Regions from separate parts of the Homo sapiens genome. Here regions 2 and 3 are each linked to region 1. Evidence: fine-mapped expression QTL. A gene starts in region 1. Each other region holds a variant in brackets. All regions are shown on one strand. Distances are from middle to middle.

Region 1 (8,174 bases):
GCTGAGGCAGGAGAATTGTTTGAACCAGGGAGGAGGAGGTTGCAGTGAGCTGAGATCCCATCATTGTACTCCAGCCTGGGTGACAGAGCATGACTCTGTCTCAAAAAAAAAAAAGAAGCTTATAAACCCAGGCACAGTGGTTCATGCCTGTAATCCTAGCAAACCTTGGGAGGCCAAGGTGGGGGGATCACTTGAGGCCAGGAGGTGGAGGCTGCAGCAAGCTATGATTGCACAGGAAGACTGTCTCTTTAAAAAAAAAAAAAAAGCTCATAGAACATTTAAAAGTAAAGAAATGGAGGGGAAAAAGGATCTAAAATCCACTTACTCTAACACAATCATACACAATCATTATCATTAATGATTATTGTATTTCTTCCTAGCCTTTTTTTGCAAGTCCTTTAACAATCCATAGCTGTTACACATAAAATGCAATAGCCTTCCTTTTACTCTTCACATTCTATGACATTATTTCATATCATGACATGGTCCTGATGATCATTCATTCAACAGGTAGTTAGTGAGTGCCTGAGATGTGCAGGCATGCTCCAGGCACTGGGAACACAGCCTTGAACCAACAGACAAAACCGTCTGCATGCATGGAGCTTGCATCCTGACAGGAGGGACAAGCAAGAAACGAAGAAATAAATCGACAGCATTCCATTAGTTAGCACCTAGATAAAAGAGATATACCTATAGTGTTCAAAGCTTGAGCTATGAGAAATAAAAGAGCAAAAGATCGTTTTCATCAAAAGGACTATGAAGCATGTTATGTTTTACTTAACAAAACCAGTGCTAACCATGTTACATCCTCCAGACTTGAAGTGTGTGGGTGTGTTTAACAGACACAATTTTACCTTTTTTTCCCTTTTAAGTTATCCGTCAACATTTTTCAGTCTCTCTTTAAAGAGCATCTTAAATTTGCATAATAGTCATTCATCTTAATAAAAACATTACACTGTTGTTGGACATTGTTGTTTCCTTTCAGGTTTAACTCTTTAAAAACTTCTCTAACTCAGCCGCAGGGTGCACTGCCTCATGCCTGTAGTCCCGGCACTTCAGGAGGCCAAGGTGGGTGGATCACGAGGTCAAGAGACTGAGACCATTCTGGCTAACATGGTGAAACCCTGTCTCTACTAAAAGTACAAAAAATTAGCCGGGCGTGGTGGTGCACACCTGTATTCCCAGCTACTTGGGAGGCTGAGGCAGGAGAATCGCTTGAACCCAGGAGGTGGAGGTTGCAGTGAGCCGAGATCACACCACTGCACTCCAGCCTGGGCAACAGAGCAAGATCCCATCTCAAAAAAACAAAAAACGAAAACAAAACAAAAAAACTTCTATAACTCAGTGCAGAATCGTTTAAATTTAGTACTGTTGCATTAGAAGAGAGTGGCAGAAGCAAAACTACAGGGTCGAAGGGTATAAACATTTTAAATAAACAGGATATGAAAAGTTCTAAAGCTCTTGATGAAGATTGACAATTGCTTTCTAAAGGAATCTACTCTCACCAGCCACATATGTGGGAATGCTCGTTTAACCAGTTCCTCGATGAATCTGAGCCTCATCTTCCCCAGTGGGAGATGGGAGCTCACTGATCCTCTTTCATTTTTGTCTGAATTTAAGGGAAAATTTCCAAAGGACACATGGTAGACCAGTTCCGTGATCTACTCAAACAAAGGGCGGAAACTGTCTCTCCACATTGCAGAGTTCCACAGCAGGAGGGGAATGCTGAGTTTCAATAGCTACTGCAGGAGGGGAGACGAAAACCCACCAGGGCATGGAGAAGTCTTCTTTCTTCCTGTCTGTTTTCAGGGAACTCAACTAGTCAGTAAGTCAGAAGCAGCAACTTGGCAGGGGTGGAGGTGGGGGCTCAGTCCCAATAGCCTAGAAAAGTGCCTCCTCTGTACTCTGAGATCTTGTCACACACAAACCCAGATGAGAATCAGCTTCCCTGCCCTGAAAATTCTGGGGTCTCAGCCCCATGAAAAAATAATTTCTTGCCTCGGAGAGCAATCGTGAGGATAGGAAGGGCCAAGACTTAACTGAACTCTCAAACACCGAAGTGCCTGAAATGTGTCCTGCTGGCAGAGGTGACCTCACAGGCTGCAAGGCTTGCCTCTCTTGGAGTATATGGTAGGAACATGCAGAGATGCACTTTTTGGCAGGCTGACCTAGGAGAGCCGATGTTCAATCCAAGCAGCTCCAAATGCTGAAGAGAATACAGGGGTATTTGATGGGGGGATGGGATGGATAGCCTGCGACAGAATGCCAGCCTTCAGACCCAACCTAGTGCTGAGGTGCTGATGTGCGTGCACACCCACCCGTTCCCCCAGAGCTTGCAACATCAAGACTGGCCTGTGGGGATCTGGCTAGGATGTGCACTGACTGAAATGTCTTTAGGCCAAATCCTCTTAAATCAAAAGTATAAACAGTGAATTTCCAAACCCTACAGAAACCTCAAATGAGAAATGACAGAGTCAGAAAATGGCTAATCCTCCAAGTTTGTACTGGAAGGTCTGAAAAAAGATAGAAAAAAAAAGGGGGGGCCTGGTATATATTTGAAAATCCAAAATGACACATCTTCTCTTGGAAGTGACACTTGGCTGGCAGATGCCCTTATATAAATATATTTTCTTTCGGTAATTTTCAAAATGTGAAATGTCCTTAAAAATAAGAATAAATGACTTGCTTCCTCCTGTGGGATTACTGCACCTGCAGAGTGCAGCCAGCTCTCATGCTCCCAGACACCACCCCAAATCCTCATCATCCTGAGATCAACCTCAACTACTGTGTTGAGTTTTGTCTCACCCAGTGTACGACCCGCCTCCTGATATGCATTTCACTCCCACTGCTCAAGCAAAGACGGTTGTCAAGACAGGGCTAGCAAGAGTGTTTATTGAGAAAGATGAATTCACAGAGATTTTGAGGTTCCTGGCTGAGTGATGGAGACCTCAAAAAACGCCTGGTGAGCGATTTCAGGACCTTCTGTCCAGAGGGAAAGACCAGAACAACTTCCAGGTGAGTCCTGCCGCTTCACAGGGGGAGAAGTGTCACCAGATTCAATGCAAGGGTTTTGTGAGTGAGAAGGGCAGGGGGTCTGACTTGGAGAAGGTATTTCTCTGAAAGCAACGGCTATTGTGGGAGACGGGAGAAAGCACAGCCAGAAATCAGAATGGCATTTGGGGGTCTGGGTTAGATATTCTGGTGGGTTCTCTTCCCGATGGGACAGAGAAGGAAACCCACTTCCCTTCTGTCTACTTGGTGAATCTGCGGGTCTCCGAGTTGCTGTCTGCTACATCTCATAGCACCTATCTTGGACTGGACAAAATTAGCTCAGGTACCCTGCAGGCTGAGAGGGAACAGCTAGTCACAGGAGCCTGGTTTAGGGGAGTTCAATTGTTCTGAGGTTCCGGGGAAACCGATGGAGGAGGCCTTGGGAGTCCAGGCAGCGCGCGAGGAAATGCGATGCCGGCCCGAGCAGCTTGCTGCCGCCAGAACAGGCGCGTCTGGGGAGCTCAGTCCCCTCCGGGACCTCTGGCCTCCTCTCGATGCTCCGCTGCCGCCCACCTCCAGCGGCCCGGGGCAGCTACCAGGAGGCCGAGGCAGTGTTCGCGGCCTGGGCCCGGCAACGGAACACGGAACTGTCGTCCCTGGAGAGCGAGGAGGCTGAGCTGATCCTTCGCGCCAGGCGGCCGGTGCGCCCGCAGGCCCCGTCCAGCGCCCGGGCTCGGAATGAGCGGTCCAGCAGGAGGTAGATGAGCGGGTTGGCGCAGCTGTTGACGAAGGCCAGGCAGGTGGCAATGGTGAGGCCCCAGCGCAGCGCCAGCAGCAGGGGGCACGGCAGCGGCAGCGCCCCCAGACGCGCCAGGTGGAAGACGGCCCGCAGGGCGCTGAAGGGCAGCCAGGAGCCCACAAACGTGCTCTCGATGGCGAAGATGATGCGCAGCGAGTTCCTCCGGGCCCGACCCACGTGCGGCGGCCGTCGCAGGCGGCGCGAGATGCGGCAGTAGCAGAAGAGGGTGACGACCAGGGGCAGCACGAAGGTCAGCAGCAGCAGCAGCAAGCTGAGGCCCTGGAAGGCGTGGGAGGGCTCCTCGCCGCACTGGCTGTCCTGGCCCCCAGGCAGGGGCTGCAACCCCCGGTAGACCAGGGAGGGCAGGCCGGCCAGCAGCGCCACGGCCCAGACGCCGCAGCACGAGGCCAGCGCGCAGCGCGGGGTGCGCAGTGGCCTCGCCTCGAGCAGCTTCACCACGGCCAGGTAGCGGTCCACGCTCATGCCCGCCAGCAGCAGCGCGCCCGCGCAGCGCGTGCCCGCCAGCGCGAAGCTGCTGAGCTTGCAGAGGCCATCGCCGAACGGCCAGCGGCCGCCTAGCGCCGCCGCCGCGGCCCACAGCGGCAGCGTGAGCACGAAGCCCAGGTCAGCTGCCGCCAGGTGCAGCACGAAGGTATCCACCAGCCGCCGCGGGCCCCGCCGCCCGGCCAGCAGCCACACCACAAAGGCGTTGCCCAGCAGGCCCACGGCGAAGGCCGCCAGGTAGAGCGCGGGGATGTAGACGTAGCCGTAGGGCAGGTCCCCGGCCGGACACAGCTCCAGCTCCTCCAGGCCGTCCAACCCCGAGTAGTCCCAGGGCGCTGACCCCGGGCTGGGGCTCCAGGGCTCTGTGGGGGCCATGGCCTGGCTATGAGGCCTGCGCGGAGTGCAGCCCTGGGCGCAGGCGGCAGCAGCTCTGAGCAGGAGGGGGTTTGCTCTTCACGCCCGGCCCTGCACCTCCCTTCCTGCCACCCAAGCCGGAGGCAAATGGGTGGGCAGGAAAGAGGGGAGGGAGGAGGGGATGGGGTGGGAGGGGCAGGCTTCTGTGAGAGAGATGGTGGCCTCCGATTTGGGGCTGACCCGAGGGGTAAGGGCAGGGACAGGCAAAAGGGGCTTCACATCTAAATCTTGGGAGGAAAAGTCTTCAGGGCTGGGAGACCTGCCCGGCCTCCCAGTAGGAGCGTGGCCCATTCCTCTATTAGTTGCTCAGTTTCTTTGTTCGTGAAATCGGGATACTTGCCCCACTGTCTCAGGGTCGCGTTGCAAGAGGTGGTGGGTGCCCGAGAGCCCTAACCTCTTCTCAGCCTCCACTTCACCCCTTCCCACCTGCACCCACCGGCTGCTGTCTTCTCTGTTTTAGAGGTGAGAAGACAGAGCCCCGGGATTTTATGAGTATGGGGCCTAAGGCACGCCCCACCCCAAATCCACCTGTTCCCTAGGAAAGACTCCACTGCCGGGACACAGCAGATCTGGGTGGGTGGGGGAGCCCGCCCTGGGCAGTCAAGCAGTTGTTAGCGTCCTGAGATGTGGGGCTCATGTCTTCACCCTATGAGTGGCTTCTCTGACCCAGTCAGGTCCTCATGAAGCCACGCGAAAGGGTTTTAAGGCAGCGAGGAAGGGGTGTAGTCAGATCATCCTGCTGGAAAGGGGTGAAACCTGGGATTCACATCTGCCTCTTCCCTGTCTTCTCCTATCCTAAAAAACCTGTCAAGCCAGACACAGATGTAAGCTCAGTTCAAAAGATGACACCTAATGAAACACCAGATTAGTTGTCCTAAATTATGAGTCAGGAGCTTGGAGGCAGCAAGATCCCTTCTGAACTGAGAAACTGAGAGTAAGGGGAGGATTCATAAAGACGAGGGGGAATGAAGTCTGACCCTGAGGAGGCAGTGGGACCTAAGGAGGAGAGGATGGGTGAGGGAAAGCTTGCTCTTTCTCCTGAAGGAGGCATGCAGCCACTTACATCTGAATTCTTCTTAGCAGATATCCCTTCCACAAGATATTGTGGTAGAACTGATGTCACAGTGCCCTCTGAGTCTGTCCCCAGTGTTCCCAGGTATGAGTGGCTGATGTGCCGGGCAACCCGGTGTGGAAAATTTGAGGTGGATTATCAATTTTGTTCGATTAAGACTTGTTAACAATGAACTCCTCCATGAAGCAGGCACTGTTTCAGGCACTGCAAGAGATGCCATTCTTGGCCTTCGCAGTTTGTTGCATAGGCAGGAGAGATGGTTACATAAGCAGAATCTTATGTAATCTTATGCAGGGGCCAAATTGTAGTAAATGTTAAAAACCAAGCCCTCTTAGGGTTTAGTGGAGGGGGAGTGATTATTTTTGACGGGAGGGCTGAATCAGAAAAGGCCTTCGAGGAGATGACACTTGAGATCAGTCCCAGGAAGGAGCTGAAAGTCAAATAAGAGCAGCAGAAAAGAGAAGAAAGGGTCAGACTCGGAGGAGGGAGTAAAGGGAACAAGTATACCAAAATGAGTAGGAATGTGGGCTTTTCAGGGGACAAGCAGTCTGCCAGAGCCCAGGGTAGGAAGGTGGGGGCAGGAGATGAAGCAGGAAAGGATCATGAGGGGATTTGGATTTCAATCTATAGGTCATGGGGAGCCAGGAGGCATCGATCTGTGTTTTGAAAAGATCGCTGGCAGAACTATGGAGAAGGGAGAGGCTCAAGCCAGGGAGACCCCATAGTAGGTTGTAATTATTTGTGTCTGAAATAGATCATGAGCAGTGGGGACAGAAATGGGAGGGTATATTCAAGAGATAATTGTAACATCATAGGTCTCACAAAGAGGAGTCAAAGATAAGCCTGGGGTTTCTCTGCTTAGGGACTATATGGACGCTGTCCCCTTAACTGCCAAGAACACAGAGAGGCACATGTGTGTATGTGTTCAGTTTGATGTTGAAGTGGGGTCATGAAATAATTTATCATCTAACCAGGATGTTTCTGAGAGTGAAAGGGGCACTATCAGAATTAACCTGGGCCGTAAACCAGGACTATTTTGGGCAAACTGGGACATAAGGTCACCCTCGCTCAGGGTCCCTCTGGCACACGGAGATCCCCAGGAAGGATTTGGAAAATGGTCTTAGAGGCCGGGCGCAGTGGCTCACATCTAATCCCAGCACTTTGGGAGGCCGAGGTGGGTAGATCACTTCAAGTCAGGAGCTCGAGACCAGCCTGGCCAACATGGTGAAACCCTGTCTCTACTAAAAATGCAAAAATTAGCCGGGCACGGTACGCGCAAGTCCCAGCTACTCAGGAGGCTGAGGTGGGAGAATCGCTTGAACCCAGGAGCAAAGGTTGCAGTGAGCTGAGATCAAGCCACTGCACTCCAGCCTGGGTGAAAGAGCGAGACTCCATCTCAAAAAGAAAATGGTCCTAGAGCTCACAGAGGGTTGGGTATGCAGTGTTTAGGCTGCTCCTGTCAAGAATTTCTCCCACACCAATTACAAGATGGGCAGGGAAGAGAAGAGCCTAGGGAATGAATGGTCTGGACCTTCCCTTCACTGGCTTTTCAGCCTCCGGGCTTGGTTTTCCCCTGAAGACCCACCCCAGAGCCGCTTTTCTAATGTCTGAGCATGTGGTTGCTGGTGAGCGGTGCCCACATCCGGGGTGGAGTAGGGGGCTGCAGCCTCCTCCCCTAGAAGGCTAGCAGGGGCAGTGCTTGCCTGCCAGAGCCCAGAGACCATCAGAGACAGACCCAGTGTTGCTGGACTTCACCCCTTCAGGCACACCTCAGTCTGCGGGCTCAGAGAGTGTGAGTGATCCTGAAAGCTAGAGATGAACAGCAGAGAAGCCGCCGGGTGAAAACAAAGAATGGGGCAAGCAGACCAAGAGGGGAATATAGGAAGGGGGTTGAGGGGAAGTAGAAGTAGGTTATTTTAAAAATCACAGAGCTACTTGCTTCCTGGGCCATCATCTCATACCCAAGGGAAGTCTGTGGCCCAGAGCATATGCTGAATTTTCTCTGCTGAGGCCTGGGTGCTGTCCATGGGCCTTACTGAACTTGTCTGGATGAGAAGAAACAGCAAAGGTCAGAGCCAGGGACACTGCCTTAGGCCCGGTCTCCTGGGGTGCCCAGCCCGGTTTCAGTGACCAAGGCCAACTTCACAAGACTGCTCTTTCACCCTTCAGGAGGACTCCCCACAGGATTACACACAAGTCAACTAATAGAAACACTCACCCTTACAGGCTGGGAATCCTGGCCATGCTCTCTAACAGGTGTGGACAAAGCAGAAGAAGTCTTCCCTCTTCCTCCATCCCACCCCTGGGAGCCTTCTCTAACCTCCATCCCTAAGAGGACTTCCTCTCTCTGCACTGCTGGAGCCAGGGCAACTGTTACGTGGCTCCGTCTTGCCT
Region 2 (8,174 bases), 99 kb before region 1:
ACAAACACTAATTTGTTTGCTCTCTGATTATGCCATTGAAAACTGTCCATACACAGTCAGAAACTGAAAGGAAGCAGGCCAGGCGTGGTGGCTGACATCTGTAATCCTAGCACTTTGGGAGGCTGAGGTGGGAGGATCACTTGAGGTCAGGAGTTTGAGACCAGCCTGGCCAACATGGTGAAACTCTGTCTCTACTAAAAATACAAAACATTAACCAGGCATGGTGTCGGGCGCCTGTAGTCCCAGCTACTTGGGAGGTTGAGGGAGGAGAATCGCTTGAACCCGGGAGGCAGAGGTTGCAGTGAGCCGAGTTTGCACCACGGCACTCCAGCCTGGGCAACAGAGTGAGACTCAGTCTCCAACAAAAAAGAAACTGGAAAGAAGTAGGGTTTTCAGGGGTGGTGGGATTATGGTGAATATTTAGTAAAAATCAAAAGAATTCTAGAGGGAGGCTCACACCCTAAACCCACCCTTCTCCTTAGCAGCTGCCTGTTGAGCTGTGGGGTCTCGGCGTGATGAGCTGATTCACCCCTGCATTACTTGAGTTGGTCTCCTCCCACCCCTGCCCCAGTATCCACAGGAAGGGTCAAGATCTGAACCTTCCGTGTTCCCAGTCCCTTAGAAGGAGCAGCCCCACCTCCAGGAACCCTCGCCTGCTGGGAAGCTCCTCTCCCCAGAGGGCAGTGGCTGTCACCCTAGCCAGACTCCTGGGTCTTCAGGCCTCTGGGTCCACAGTGCTGTAGGCCCTGCCTTCCATCCTCCCACTTGGCCTCTCCCTACTGGCCCCTCCTCCCACAGATGTTCGAGCTGGGCGAGTGTGTGACGGGCACCATCGGCCCCACTCACAACTTCGAGCCCCCGCACTACGATGGCATCGAGTGTCTCGCCATCCAGGGAGACATCCTGTTCAGTGGCTCCCGAGATAACGGCATCAAGAAGTGGGACCTAGACCAGCAGGAGCTCATCCAGGTGGGGTCAGGAGGAAAGGGAGAGGGTAGACTCGGGTAGGGTGGTTTCCATAGCCCACGCAGGGCCTTGGAGACCCTGGGACCTGGACTCGCGGGCCCCAGGCCAGATGGTTTTCACAGCTCCCCAAGCCCTCCTGTTCTCCCTCTTCCTCCTCTGTCTCCATCCTCCCTTCTTCCCTACCCGCGGCCTCTCCTGATGCCACATCTCCCTCTTAGGCAACCTGCTCTCAGCAAAGCCTTTGCTCTCAGCTCTTGGGTTTGCATGTGAAGCTCAGTTACCCAATTCCTTTCCTGGGAGCATTTGTGTTTTAGCCTGACCCGTGTGAGGGCTGAAGGGTTCTCTGCCAGGGCAGGATCTTAGGCTTGAACCTGGGAAGTAGAGCAGAGGGACCCATCTCTGGTCCCCTAAAGCCCACAGCACAGGCCACCCCAGCATGGCTCCTGGAACCAGTGTCACCCGCCCGTGTGGCAGCTCTAGAGGCCAGGGGAGCCTGGAAGTAGCTCCACTACTAGCAAGAGGGGCCCTGGGGCAGGTTCTCTCCCTCATCACCTCCCCCAGCCCTCACCAGCCCTGATCCTCTCACAGCAAATCCCCAATGCGCACAAGGACTGGGTGTGCGCCCTGGCCTTCATCCCGGGCCGCCCCATGCTGCTCAGCGCCTGCCGTGCGGGTGTCATCAAGGTCTGGAACGTGGACAACTTCACACCCATCGGTGAGATCAAGGGCCACGACAGTCCCATCAATGCCATCTGCACCAATGCCAAGCATATCTTCACAGCCTCCAGGTGGGTGCTGGTCAGAGAGGTCTGCCTCTGCTCCCTCATCTCCTTCCTGGTGTGGGCAGGGGAGGCTGGGAGGCTCAGGGCCCTGCAGTTGTCCCCGCAGGCTCGGTTCACAGAGCAGATTCCATGGTGGCCTCCTTTGCATACCTAGCCTGTGCCAGCCTTCAGTGAGTGCCCACCATGTGCTGGGCACTGCGCTAGGCAGGGGAGGAGGAAGGTACTGGGCCCTGGGCCAAGCCTCGCCCGCTTGTCTCCAAGCCCTTCCTACCCTCCCCTGCCCTGGCTGTCTTCCCCCGTGCAGGTATCTCTCAGAGCACAGAGCAGCCCTGCCAGCCCCAGACCACGCCTCTTACACCCCACCCACCCGCTCTGGCCCCCTGTGTGGGGAGCAGCCAGGCCCTCTGTCCCATGGGGTGCGACTCAGATGGCTTTCTTTCTTGTTCCGACTTTGTCCCTTCTCTCCCCTCCCCTTCCCATCTCCTCCCACCTCTCCTCTCTGTCCTCGCCTCTCTCCCCACACAGTGACTGCCGGGTAAAGTTGTGGAATTACGTCCCTGGACTCACCCCCTGCCTTCCTCGCCGAGTCCTGGCCATAAAGGGCCGCGCCACCACCCTGCCCTGACCCTCCCCAACTCTCCCTGTCTCCTCTTTCATTCTTCCCCTCTTTCCTTTTCCCTCTCTTTCCCCACTTCGATCTGAGCTGCTTCTTAACGGTATGAGATTATTTTACTCCTTCTTCTTCCTTTCCCTTCCTGTCCTGCCTGGCCTAGAGAGGTGCCCTGCCTGTCCCTCCTGCACCCACCGTCCTTTTCCAAGCATGAACAGTGGGACAGGCCCCAGGAGATGGGTGCCAGGGAGCAGAAGGGGGAGCCTTCAGGCCTGGACAAAACGAAACACCCCCCCAAAAAAAGAAAACCCATGACAAAGCTCCCCTGGGGGCCTCTGAGTGCACAGGCCTCTCCATCTGCCCAGCACCCCACCACCTGCAGTCCACCTCCCCGTAAGCCATGCTTGCCTCCCAGCCCCAACCACATTTGGGGAGTTTGGGGAATCCAGTTCATCCTCTACTTTTGGGGGCAGCCAGCCAAGCCCACTGCAAGAGCTGACCGGCACCCCTCCACTTTGTCCTCCACCCCAGTGACCTGACGGTGAAGTTCTGGAGTGTCCGGCGGTTACCCCACAGCGGCCCACCCTAGGAGTGAGGTCAGAGGGATGCCCCCGGACCCTCGACCCCAGCAGCCTGGACACCATGGAAGGGAAGCTGTGACCCGGCCGATGGGGCCAGCTGCTCTGGGGACAGAGGGCGTGGCCCCCTCTCCTGCCCTCCTCCCTCTCCCTTGGCCTTCCCACAGGACACTGTTCCCTCATCCCTCCCCTGCCTCTCAGGAGCCTCTGGGTGAGAGAGAGGCTGGGGAGGAAATTAAGCTGTGAAGCCAAAGGGCATTATCCCTTCTTGTTC[C/T]CCTCCTGGCAGTCGTGGCCACATTGTCTCCTGCTGAACCGGCTCTGCCCCTTTCTCAGGCCTTTGGCCCAGTGGTGGAGCCCTGTGGGGAGGTGCAGCAGCCTGGCCCCATCCCACCCTTCCGAGGAGCTGGCCTCCCCGCTTCTCCCAGCCCAGCCTCTAGAGCCACTGCACCTGCCTCTGAGCCCAAAAAGATAAGTCCTCAGGTAGCTAAGGAAACCAGGTGTGGGCGGCTGGGCCTTGCAGCTAACCCTTAACCCTCTGGCAACCCGCAGATAGCCCCAACTGGCCCCAACAGTTCCCTGGGGTCCCTTTTGGATGGGGCCAAGGTGGAGCTGCTAGAAAGATTCCTTTGGGGAGATGGTCAGAAATACTTCAGTTATTTATTATTTTGTTATTTTTATTTTTTGCTGTTGCCTCCTGGAAACGGACTTGAAGTTTCTTCCCCTATATTCTTTCCCTCAGCTCTTGGGGGCCAGAAATCCCAAAGGGAGTCCGCTGCCCCGGCCCTCCAGGGCCGCCTCCTCTGTTTGCTTTGCAGAGGAGGGAACTGCTCCTTCGACTCTGCAGCTCAGGCCTGTCCCCGACACAGCCCCCAGGGAGTCTTCTAGCTACCCCTGGCCTCTAGGCCGCCTGACGCTCAGTGCCTTCCTCCGTTCCGGGGCCTGGCACCCGTGCCGGGCAGCCTTACACCAGCCATGCCCGCGGCACCACATGTGTCTTCTCACTCGCGAGGTCTTGTGCCCAGCGCCCCCGGGAAGGCGGGGGCGCTCACCCCACAGCCCAGGCCCCGGGGTTCTGCCCCACAGTCCTGCGTGGGCCACGTAGGAAGCAGCATGGGGGCTGTGTCTGCTGGGAGGTGGCTTGGATGGGGAGGACAGCCCGGCACCCTGACCCCCGCCCCTCCCCAGCCCTGCAGTCCCCCACTGGGCCGGGGAGTCTCTCCAGCTTCTCTCTCTCTGGTTATTCAGGAGACACATTTTCGGCCTTAAAACTGGCATGGAGCGCAGGCCCTCCCTTGCAGAAAATTATCAAGGAAGAGGGAGTTGGCAGAGTTTCTCTGCCCCGGGGCTGGGGACGCGGAGCTCCGGGGAAATTGTTAAATCAGTGTTCTGGCGCCCCCTGTTGGGGGAACTCTGGAATTACAGGAGTGGGCCTTGGGGGGGACTGAGCTCCATCCCTCTCCCCCGCCCCACCCCCACCCAAAGTTGCCCACCCTGTTTTTCCGTTGCATCGCTGGTCTTGTGCTTCCCGCTTCAGTCTGGGAGCCAAGAGCCAGCCCCACCTCCCTTCAGAGGACGCAGTGACTTTTGGACTTTCCAGAGGTGGTTCTGTGTTTCTGCCCTTGGCTCCTCTCCGTCTTGGGCTGGGGCACTTGGAGCCCTCTCCATGTGGCGCCCAGTGTTGGGGGGAGGCAGGCTCCAGTGGAGGCTGAGTGAGGCCTGGTCCCTTCCCCGTGCCCTCCTCGGAGCTGCCACAGAGGCTAAGACGGCTGTCCTGCTGGTGCTGGCCCTGCTGGATGTGGTATTGAAGTCTGGGGCAGCTGATAGCAGGAAGGAGACCCCCTTGGATGCTGGTCTCCTGGGACCTGAACAGTCTGTCAGCAATGGCTGGAAATCCTTCTTCCTCTGGCCACCCCGGGGGTGCCGGGCAACCCCCTTAGCTCTAAGATGTGGCCACAAATCTCTTCCCACTCCTCCCCGCCAACCTGAACAGAAAGTTTTGACCTTGCAACCTGTAAGAAAGAATCCGTCCGCATGACTGTTTACAAGCGATAGAAACACGTAAGACTCTGTCCCCTTGAGCTCCCACCCCCGGGCCGGGGATGCCCCACCTGGGGTGACTGCACTGTAGCTGCAAGGCGTGTTCTTGCACGAAGTGTGATCTTATGGCCCTGCGAGAGGTGCTCATCATCATGCCCATTTTCTGCTGTTTCTGATGGGTCAGCTACCTCACGGCGGGGCCAGCTCTGCTGTCCTGGCAAGTGTCATTGACTCTCTAAACTTGAAGTCCTTCAGGAGCCCTGAGCCCAACATCCATGAGACACCCCGAGTTGTGCTTCATGAGAGTTGGATTCTCTGCCCACTCTTTCAGGGATGTCCAAGGTCCATGTTAGGGGGCAGGCCCCCAGCTCCACTCACTGCACAAGCACCCTAAATGTTGGAAGCACAAAATGGTTGTGATTTGAGCACAATGGCAGGGTCCCGCAGGCAGACTTGACAGGCCCAGGCCCGGGAGGATCCCCCCACGTTGGCTCTGTCCAAAGTGAGATTGGGGGTGCCTGTGTCTGGGACAGGGGGCTGCCCTTGCTCAGACCAGGCCTTGGCTCATGGCTTGTCCTAATTCTGGGACTCGTCATCTTACTTCTTGCCCTTCTGTGCCCATCTTAAGACTGGAGGCTGAGCCTTGTCAGGCCCAGCCACATCTTTACGCCATGGGACCAGGAGTAAAGCGCTCTCTAAACCCCGCACCCCAAATCTCTAAACGCCTGAGTTCAGGCTGAGTCCTAGCCCTAGTGAGCCTGAAGAGCTTGGACTGATTCCCAGTCTCCTGGGTCAAGCCCCACTTTGTGCTTTCGAAGCTTATGAGCGGGTTCCCTGGATAGAAGGAGTCTTCCATCCCCACTGCCCTTGGGCCTCTTCAGCATAGTCCTGTGCCAGGGCCCTGTCCTCACTATCAGTCAGTTCAGTATTTGCTTTCACGTGAGTGGCGGACTCTTCTGAAGCAGCCAGAACTCTCAAAGGCAGCGCATGGAGTTGCCTTGCGAGATTTCCAAGGAAGGAGGAAAGATTAACAGGCGGAGCCTGGCACACCCAAGCCTTTGAGGTGGTCAGAGTGCCACCTTCAGCCCCTTGGGAAGGGACAGCGGTGGGTCTGGGAGTGGCCTCACCCTGGATTCAGCCTAGGAATCTCTTCACCCTCAGCTGTCCAGCCCTGCTGCCTGTCTGGGGATGTGTGGCCTGGGCAGAGGGCAGTTTAAAGCACAAAACCACATGGGGAAAACACAAGGTTGCGGGGACTTTCTCATGTGCCTGATGTGGTGGAGGGAGACACCAGCAGGTGGCTGCAGTGACGTTAGGGAACATAACACTTCTTTGCCCTGCTAGCTCTCAGCTCTGGGGGGCATCCCCCGATGTGGTCTGGGCTGGGAGCAGGCATATCCCCTGGTTGTTGCCTGTGCCTGGTCTGTTCACCATCGTGTTTGTGTGGGCAGAGCCTGCCCTGCAGGAGCAGTGACTTTCTTCCCACTGTGTGTCCCGGACCTGTGGTATGTGTCCCTTTGCCATCCCAAACAGGCAACTGCTTGCTGCTCTCCTTGCTTGGCATAGCCTCCTGGTCAGTGGCCAATGCCCCACAGGCCTTCCTGGGCCTGGCCCTCCTCTCCTGACTCCCAGATCCTTCCCTGCCCTCTTGTGTGCAAGGACAGATTTTGCAGGGAAAGTTCTGTTTCTTCTTTGATACCTTTGTTCTGTCCCCTGCCCCATCCCCAGCACTCATGATCTTGAAGCCCCTATCACACTCTAGTTCAGTCCTGTGAACCATGTCCTGAGGGCCTTGCAGGGAAGTAGGAAATAGAAACTCCTCCACAAAGAGCCGAGGATCAGAGAAGACCCCTGAGATGAATCAGGGCCCTGCCCTGCCCACCAACTCTTTTCTAGCAATCATGTCCTGCCCAGGCTGCAGGCTTCATTAGGCTCCTGCTGTCCTCCATGATGTGACTAGCACAAGGTGTATATATGTTTTGTACCTCTGCCGATGGCTGTACATAGTGTATGAAAGTTATTTAAGCCCCATGTTGTACATTTCTGTTCCTAGATTGGATGTGTGTGTTCTAAGAAGTTGTCATAAATAAAACCTGAATGACCAATGTCTGTGGAGGTGTCCCCTGTCCCCTTCCAGGGGGCTGCTGACTTTTGGCTGGGGCCTTTGGAGAGGGAGTTGGTGGTGGTGGTGGGTGGGTGGGTGAATGGGTGCAGCAGGCCTCTGGGGCTGGGCCCAGCCTGATGAGAACTTCCTGAGCTGTGAGTTTGGGGCTTCACCAGTTAGAAAGCAGAGAGCTTTGAGAGCGTCACATTCTCCTCCAGACTCCATATGTTGTCTCCAGAGGCAGGTGCAGTTGCTGGAAGAGTGGGCAGCAGCATTTGTGGACCAACTGCTATATCCTAGGCACTGTTCAGAGCATTTTTCATTGTGTCTTCACTGCCCTGTGTGACAGGTGACATTCTCATTTTATGAAATGAGAAAGGTCTCGGGATGGATGTGACTTTCCCAGGATCACAGCTAGTAAGGACAGAGCCAGGATCTGCATCTAGACCTCCCCAACCACAGCAGCCTTTGCCTTTTGCTAACGTAACACGTACCTCTCTAGGGCCTGGACTACGCTGTGCGTGGTGCACGCCAAACGCATCTCGGTCCCTTGCCACTTATGGAAAGAAGGCAAGACTATAAAAAGATCATACAAGAAAAGAGCTCTACAAAGGTCTTTTCTTTTCTTTTTAAATAGAGATGGGATCTCACTATGTTTCCCAGGCTGGTCTCGAACTCCTGGGCTTAAGCCTTACCTCCCATCTCAGTCTCCCAAAGTGCTGGGATTACAAGCGTGAGTCACTGTGCCTCACCATGATTTTTGTCCTAGATCAGTGCTTTTCAGTCTTTAAGAACCCATATTCCCTTTTGATAACCATGAATTGTTTCACCAACTCCTGGAGATTCCGGCCCATCCCCTGGGCAGAGAGGCCCCTCGGGGAGAATCCACATCTTCATCACCAGCCACAACTGATTAAAAAGCTTAACTTCCTGATATTTGTATCAGGAATATAATAGGGTTTCTCTTTGCTTTGTTTCCCAAATATAAAACCAAATTGCTTCCTCAGCCTGCGCAGGTCCCCTGCTGTTTGTCCAGACTTATGGATGTGACAGGTGCTCTGGCCAGGGAATTCCTGGAGTCTGTAGGAGGCAGAAGT
Region 3 (8,174 bases), 32 kb before region 1:
TCTCTCTGGGGAAGCTGTCTCTTACCTCAGAGACTGCGACTGGCCCCTCCTCCCCTGTATCTCAGGGGTGGCTGGGGCACTGGTGCGGCCCTGCCACTGGCCAGGAACACCACGGATGGGAACCACGTGGTAGGAGGCAGGCTCCAGAAGCCACAGGCTGGAGGCACTGGGCCCATCCTGTGGTGTGGTGGCTGGGCTGCTGCAAAAGGATTAGAGACAGGTCAGTGGCAGGAATGCCTCCATTCAGGGGCTCAAGAGGTGCAGAAGAATGGGGATGCAGTGGAAGGGGCTCCCAAAGTTAGTAGGGCAAACTGCCAGCACCCTTGGGGAACTATCAAGGCTCACACCTCCATCCCACGACTGCAGGAGCTCTCTCCTCCACCTTTCCACTTTTCCATCTGCCCAGCCTATAGCCATCCCCAGCATAGCTCCCACCGACTCCCTGCCCTGCCCTGCCCTTCTCCCTTCCCCCTGATCCTGACCTGGACTCGCTCCAGGGCTCAGAAGACTTCCTGGGCTTCTCATAGGGGTGGTCCAGGCTGGTTTCCTTCCAGGGGCTGTTCTGGACTGGAGCCCGTTCTGGGCTCCCAGCCTCAGGTCCTGTTGGCTGCAGACCCTCAAGGGTTTGGGGTGGGAGAGGCCGAGAAGGTGGGGCTGGAGACTCTGGAGGAGGTTTTGGCACTTGGGATTCCTCTGCAGGAGTAAAAGAAACCTGGTAAGGCCAGAGGCTGGGGGAACCGGCCCAACAAGAACCTCCACAAACCACAGCCCATGCCTCGCCGCTCTCCCTCCCATGCTGGCTTGTGCAGCTGCTGCAGGCCATGGCTCCAGCCCTAGATGCTCAAACATGTTTTCTTCTCCTTTGGGACTTACTTCTTCCCACACAGCCCTATTTTATGCCTTCCTCCTTCAAGAAGCCTCCCAGATTGACTCTCTTGGGCTTACAGTGCTCCACTTTCTAACCTTTGTTCCTGGTACCATGTCTGCAGTTATCTTTTGTTTACCTATTTTTCTTGTTCCTGCCATGCCCATATGGCCTATTTATTTCCTTATTGGCTTGGGCACTCCCCTGGGCAGGACTGCAACAGCTTCTCGATCCACCTTGACCCTGGCATCCTCATGGTTTGTACACAGGGTTCTTAATCTATAGACTTGTGTTTCCTTCCTGCTCCCTTCTTTTAAAAAACAGCAATGATTGTGGGCAGATTGCTCTTTGGCTCTGACTGGTGCATCTTGAAATCACACCCAAGGGTGAAGGAGGGACATCTGGGGTTGATCAGCTCTCTTGGAGTTCACCTTTCCTTTCCCTGTAAAAATAATGAGCTTCCAGAATGGGAGATGATCGCACATTCCCCATCTTCAACTGAGCATGTGCAAGGACATGCGGAAATTGACATGAAGTCCAAGCGGAAACCCTAAGCCTGGCACCCTAGCCTTCACTCCCACTTAAATTCCACACCAGCAAACTGCCCAAACCCCATGGTCTTGCAGTAGGAGTCCAGCCTTGACAATAGTCCCCCAAACGTCCTTCTCACCTTCCTCCAGGAGGAGCCCATCTGACAGGGAGCTGTCATCAGAGGCACTGAGCTCTGCGAAAGACAAAGGGGAGAGAAGAGAAGGAAGTGAAGAAATGAACAAACAGATATGAGTAACCAGCAGTGCTGAGCAGCTCAGGCCTGATCACTCCCCCAGGACAGCATCAGTTATGAGGAAATACCCTCTGTGTGCTAAATACACATTGGGAGTGATTTTTTTTTTTTTTAAGAGACAGGGTCTTACCCTGTGGCCCAGGCTGGAGTGCAGTGGTGTGATCATGGCTCACTGCAGCCTTGACCTCCCAGGCTCAAGGGATCCTCCCACCTCAGCCTCACAAGTAGCTGAGACCACAGGGGCATGCCAGCACACCCAGCTAAATTATTTTATTTTTTTTGTAGAGAAGAGGTCTTGCTGTCTTGCCCAGGCTGATCTTGAACTCCTAGGCTCAAGTGATCATCCCACCTTGGCCTCCCAAAGTGCTGGGATTATAGGCATGAGCCACTGTGCCTGGCCTGGCTGTAAACTTACTACATGGAAGTAGAAAAAAATAGAAGGCAGAGCTAGGAGACAGGAAACCTGATTTTAATCCTGACTCTGATACTAGCTATGCAACCTTGAATAAACCATTTCAATGCTCTAGACCTCAGTTTCCCCACCTGTCAAAAAAAAAGAAAAAGGGTGTCCTCTGGCAGGGCTTCTTGGTAGTGGAAAGGAAAGACAAAGGGTCATTTTGGAAGGCCCTTAGGATAAAAAGAATTTCATGGCCAGGCGCGGTGGTTCATGCCTGTAATCCCAGCATTTTAGGAGGCCAAGGCAGCAGATGGCTTAAGCCCAGGAGTTCAAGACCCACCTGGGCAAGATGGTGAAATCTGGTCTCTACAAAAAATACGAAAATTAGCCAGGCATGATGGTGCATGCCTGTAGTCCCAGCTACTTGGGAACCTGAGATGGGAAGATCACTTGAGCCTGGGAGGTCGAGGCTGCAGTGAGCCGTGATCACACCACCGCACTCCAGCCTGGGCAACAGAGTGAGACCCTGTCTCAAATAAAAAAAAGGGAATTTCACTCTAACTTTTGTATAATCATCTCACATCACAAACACAATTCAAAGATCCCAATGTGAGACCTCCTGTGTTACCAACAACAAGAGGAACGCAAGGTAGGAATTTGAATTTAAGATAAGGTCTGGCCAGCTGGCCCCAGGGAAGTTTCTTCAGTTGGTGATCTGGCAAGTCACCTGAAGGAAATTCAGTGTGACTTTACTTCATGGTATAGCAGCACTTTTTACCTAAGAAATCAGAGGGAACTCATTTGTGCTATTGCTTTTGAAGAAACTTAAGCCTTCAGATTTTTTTTTTTTTTTTTTTTGAGATGGAGTCTCATTCTCTTACCCAGGCTGGAGAGCAGTGGTGTGATCTCGACTCACTGCAACCTCCACCTCCCAGGTTCAAGCGATTCTCCTGCCTCAGCCTCCCGAGTAGCTGGGATTACAGGCACACACCACTATGCCTGGCTAATTTTTGTATTTTTAGTAGAGACGGGGTTTTGCCAGGTTGGCCAGGCTGGTCTTGAACTCCTGACCTCAGGTGATCCACCCACCTCGGCTTCCCAAAGTGCTGGGATCACAGGCGTGAGCCACCACACCCGGCCAGGCCTTCAGATCTTGAGAATAAGCCTAAAGTGACCTGGATGGAACTCACGAAACATTTTCAACTGTGTTTGAGAATGAAGATGAGGAAAAAGTAATAATTGCTAATGTTTCTACTGTGCCA[A/T]TACATTTCTAAATACAGCACTTTATATATATTAATTCAGGTAATTCTCATAACAACCACGTAAGGTAGATATTATCACCTGCAAGTGACAGTTGAGGAAACCACGTCTCAGAGGAGTTGAGTAACGTGGTTTAGGTTATACATTCAACAAAGGTGGTTGAGTCAGAATTCACACCCAGACAGTCTGACTGGAGTCTGCTCTTAACCACAACCCTTTATGGGCTCTCCCCTGTGAGCTTGCATCTCAAATGCATGGGCATTGCCCAGGAAGTTTCAAAAAAAGTAAAAAGTTCCAACCATCTTGAAATCCCTTACAACAGAGGTTAGCAAACTATGGCCCAGGGGTCAAATCCAGTTCAATAGCTGCTTTTGTAAATAAATGTTTATTGGAACACGGCTATGAATTTGTTTATGTAATGTCTGGCTGTTTTAGCACTGAAGTAGCAGAGTTGAACAGTTGTGATAAAGACCAAAGAGCCTACAAAGACTAAAATATGTACTGTCTGGCTCTTTATGGAAAAGTTTGTTAACCTTTGCTCCACAAAGGTTTAACCCATCTTTTTAAAGATGGGTTGTTACAATGTTGCCTAGGCTGGAGTGCAGTGGCCCGATCACAGCTCACTGCAGCCTTGACCTCCTGAGCTCAATCAATCTCCCACCTCAGACTCCTGAGTAGCTGGGACTATAGGTGTCCACAACCATGCCTATCCAATTTTTTTATTTTAGTTATTTGTAGAGACAGGGTCTCCCTGTGTGGTCCAGGCAGGTCTCATACTCCTGGGCCCAAGAGATCCTCCTGCCTTGGCCTCCCAAAGTGCTGGGATTACAAGCTTGAGCCAACATGCTCAGCCTGCTCCGCAATTTAATGAAAAAATCTTTACCCAGAGCAGGCAGTAGATTTCTAGGACATACGGTACCAGGAGCTGGGCTTGACTCCTGAGTAGCCAGCCAGCCCATGCTTTGCTTGGCTCACAAGTAGCCTTTGCTTTAGGGTTCAATTAAAGAGACCCCCTCTTACTGAATTCTGGTCTCCTGCCTTTGATCTTTTATAAAAACCTTAGGAATAAAGATTTTCATTGGGCCAGGCACACCTATAATCTTAGTTACTCCAGAGGCTGAGGCAGGAGGTTTGCTTAAGACCAGGAGTTTGAGACCAGCCTGGGCAATATAGCAAGATCCCATCTCTAAAATAGTTTTTTTGTTTTGTTTTGTTTTAATTTGCTGGGTGTGGTGGCACATGACTGTAGTCCCAGCTACTAGAGGCTGAGGAAGGAAGATCACTTGAGCCCAGGAGTTCAAGGCTGCAGTGAGGTATGATCACACTACTGCACTCCAGCCTGAGCAACAGAACAAGACCCTGTCTCTAAAAAGATTGGAAAAAAAAAAAAAAAGATTCAGGTTTCTGAGAGCTGCTCACTATCTCAGCAACTGTCCCAACCCTGCCCTAGCTCAGCGTTCCCCTGCCCCGCAGCAGCATCGCAGGACACCCCAGACAGAGGGGTAACGGTGGAGATTTTACTCACAAATGCTGAGCTTCCCCCAAGGCTATGCTGTCCAACACAGTTGCCACTAGCCGCATGTGGCTATTTTCATTAAAACTAAATAAAGTCAGTTCCTCAGTCACACTAGGCACAGTTCAAATGCTCCATAGCCACATGCAGCGAGTGGCTACTGTATTGGACAGCACAGATACAGAACACTTCCACCATCTCAGAAATGCTATGAGCGGCCAGGCGCAGTGGCTCACGCCTGTAATCCCACCACTTGGGAGGCCAAGGCGGGAGGATCCCTTGAGGTCAGGAGTTCGAGACTAGCTTGGACAATTTGGTGAAACCCCATCTCTACTAAAAATACAAAAATTAGCTGGGCGTGGCAGCACGCATCTGCAGTCCCAGCTACTCAGGAGGCTGAGGCAGGAGAATCGCTTAAACCCGGTAGGTGGAGGTTGCAGTGAGCTGAGATGGCTCCACTGCACTCCAGCCTGGATGAGAGAGCAAGACTCCGTCTCAAAAAAAAAAAAAAAATGTTATGAGGATGTGGCTAATGGCTGGTGTTGTTGATCAACAGATGCATCCAGAGTGCCTATTACATTGCACAGGTGGGTGCTGGGTGGCCCTCATGCGGTTCACTCTAGTAAATGAGCTCAACACCTGACTGCTCCCTGCCACTGCAAAGTATGGCTGATGACTCTCACCTAGCAGTTACTTTCCCAAACTAAATTACCCTTGTATGGAGCCCAAGGGGGCAGGGTGGTTTTTTATTTCGGTTTTTGGGTTGTTTGCTTTTTTCCCTTTTTTTTTTTTTTTTTTTTGAGACAGAGTTTCGCTCTTGTCACCAGGCTGGAGTGCAATGGTGCAATCTCGGCTCACCGCAACCTCCGCCTCCTGGGTTCAAGTGATTATCCTGCCTTAGCCTCCCGAGTAGCTGGGATTACAGGCATGCGCCACCATGCCTGGCTAATTTTGTATTTTTAGTAGAGATGGGGTTTCTCCATGTTGGTCAGACTGGTCTTGAACTCCCGACCTCAAGTGATCCACCCGCCTCGGCCTCCCAAAGTGCTGGGATTACAGGTGTGAGCCACTGCACCTGGCCTCCTGTTTTTTTGTTTTGTTTTGTTTTTTGTTTTTGAGACAAAGTCTCACTCTGTTGCCAGGCTGGAGTGCAGTGGCACGATCTCGGCTCCCTTGATCCTGGGCTCCACCTCCCAGGTTCAAGGGATTCTCCTGGCTCAGCCTCCCGAGTAGCTGGGACTACAGACATGCACCACCATGTCTGGCTAATTTTTGTATTTTTAGTAGAGATGGGGTTTCACTATGTTGGCCAGGCTGGTCTTGAACTCCTAACCTCATGATCCGCCCACCTTGGCTTCCAAAAGTATTGGGATTACAGGCATGAGCCACAGTGTCCGGCCTTCCCTTTTTAATTCAAAACACCTCAGCTACTAATAATTCTGCTTTACTTCCTCCTTTCTAGGAGGGCTCGGCTGGGCAGAGGAGCCACAAAACAGAAATTACTTGTCTAGAACTGATCCCTTCTGTGCTCTCACAACAGGACTTTAGATCCCAGGGCCTGAAGTTGGCCAGTGGGATCTTGATTCCTGATGTGGGAAAGTCAGCAACTACACCAGTTGTCTCCTCTCCACAGCTCTGTCTTCACCTGTACTGAGGGCTCCAAGGTTTCAGAACCTCATCCTCCTGCCTTCCACAGAGCCCCAGGCCAGTCCTGGCCTGCTCCCGACTCCCAACAAGAAGCATTATGGGTCACAATGGCAGCATCAGGGTGACACTCCCCTGCCACCCATCATGGGCAGAAGCTCCCAGCAATGGCAGCCCCGGTGGGCAGGGGAGGCTGCTGAGCAGTGTGAGGCTGGACCGGGGAGCAGGAGGCGCTGCAACCAACGGGCATATCTCACCACCCTGACCTCTCCCTGCAGGCACAGAGCAAGTTGGCCCTTAGGGGCTTCCATGTCCAATTCAGCAGCTACCTTTCAAGGTTGCTGTCAAGTCCTGGGATCCCTGTTGAGAGTGGAGTAAGGTTGTAGAACTTGTCTTCCATTAGAGCCTCAGAGACTGGGAGTGTTGTTCTGCGGCCAAGCCAGAACCACTGGAACCGGACAGAGGTCTGGCCATTTTCCCTGGGTCAGCCCCACTGTCTTCTGAGTTTACTGGGTTAACTGTCACATGGAGGCACCTCCTCCTTTATCACCTACTCTTGGCTGCGGGAGGTGACCTGGGTGGTGTCTGGTCATGCACTTTCTACCCTAAATTAAAAGCCATGGATAGGAGCAGGGACTTCTGAGACCTGTGCTGAGATAACTCCCTGCCTGAGGCATAGGCTGCAGGGCACAGGGACTAGCAAGGGCTTTCCAGCTTCCCCATGACTGCTCCCAGGCTGAGGAGTAGTCTTGGCAAAAAGCCAACACGATATGCAGGGATGGGAGCCTGAGAATGTGAATGAAGGCCGAGACCTCTGAATCCAATTCTGGATTTTTTTTTGCAGGGCCACGGCCTCATTCCCTCCCGGTTCCCTCTGAGGCAGCCAGGGAGGTCTGGGTCCCATGTGAGAGACGGGGGGCAGAGCTGAGTCATGGGCCTGCTGCGGTGGGGTTTGGAATGGAGAGATGCAAGTCCTGACCTGACAGGCTGGCCTTGGGTCAGGACAAAGGAAAACAGTCACACCTAAGGGCTCAGAACCACCTGTTGGAAGCTAACCTGTGGTGGACACACTGATGTGATGTGGCAGCACCTGGGCATCAACAACTCACTAGGTGCCCCCACGGCCACTAGTCTCTGGGCCAAGGAGCTCAGGGATTGAACTACAGACACAAGGAGGGCAGAGAACAGACATGGAAGGATCCCACCCTTGACCAGGGTGGTTGTAGATACTTAAGGGGCTGTGGGGTGTGGCACCAGTCCTGCTGGATTTCAACCTGAACATCTCCTAAGTAGCTGTGGGCCCCTGAAACAATTCAGTGATCAGTAACACATAGCAATCGTCAAACCCTTTGCTGCCTAACTCAGGCCAGGGGACTACACATCAACTCAGAGCCTTGGGCTCACGGGAGCCTCACACTACCCTGACCCAGAGATGCCATCACCCTGTGGGCCTGGAGGGCAGCGGGGCCAGCCTGGGCTACCCAGTTGAATACACCTTGGATTCAGCTCAGGGTCAGCTGAGAAATATCTCTGTGTAGGAAGTCTCTTGAAGGTAGTGTATTTTGAGGAGGATACGGAAGGAGAGAGTAGGGTGTTTTCTAAGGAGACGGAGAAGAAGACCTCACAGGATGGGGAAGCCTTGCTGGAGTTGGAGAGAATCAGGATGGGGTGGAGCTGAACCCAAGAATCAGCTTTACCCAGCTGGAGCCAA

The links. PIP is the estimated chance that this variant, and not a neighbour inherited with it, causes the effect.
Region 2: its variant is fine-mapped to the expression of GPR25 in whole blood (INTERVAL, PIP above 0.99).
Region 3: its variant is fine-mapped to the expression of GPR25 in whole blood (INTERVAL, PIP above 0.99).

Annotation. Positions count from the first base shown.
Region 1 is chr1:200,869,533-200,877,706 of GRCh38, reverse strand. It overlaps GPR25 (G protein-coupled receptor 25), which reads right to left and starts at 4,726. Exons shown (of 1, transcript NM_005298.4): 1 at 3,529-4,726. The coding sequence starts at 4,669. The coding sequence ends at 3,584. RefSeq lists an enhancer at 4,032-4,674.
Region 2 is chr1:200,968,294-200,976,467 of GRCh38, reverse strand. It overlaps KIF21B (kinesin family member 21B), which reads left to right. Exons shown (of 35, transcript NM_001252102.2): 33 at 799-969; 34 at 1,555-1,754; 35 at 2,890-7,078. The coding sequence ends at 2,947. Among named protein-coding and RNA genes, the nearest start is that of KIF21B, 51 kb to the left of the region's middle. RefSeq lists an enhancer at 5,214-5,393. The variant C/T (reference allele first, on the strand shown) is at 3,211.
Region 3 is chr1:200,901,249-200,909,422 of GRCh38, reverse strand. INAVA (innate immunity activator) reads right to left here. Exons shown (of 10, transcript NM_001142569.3): 6 at 1,536-1,589; 7 at 483-693; 8 at 26-199. Among named protein-coding and RNA genes, the nearest start is that of INAVA, 10 kb to the right of the region's middle. RefSeq lists a silencer at 3,371-3,490. The variant A/T (reference allele first, on the strand shown) is at 3,309.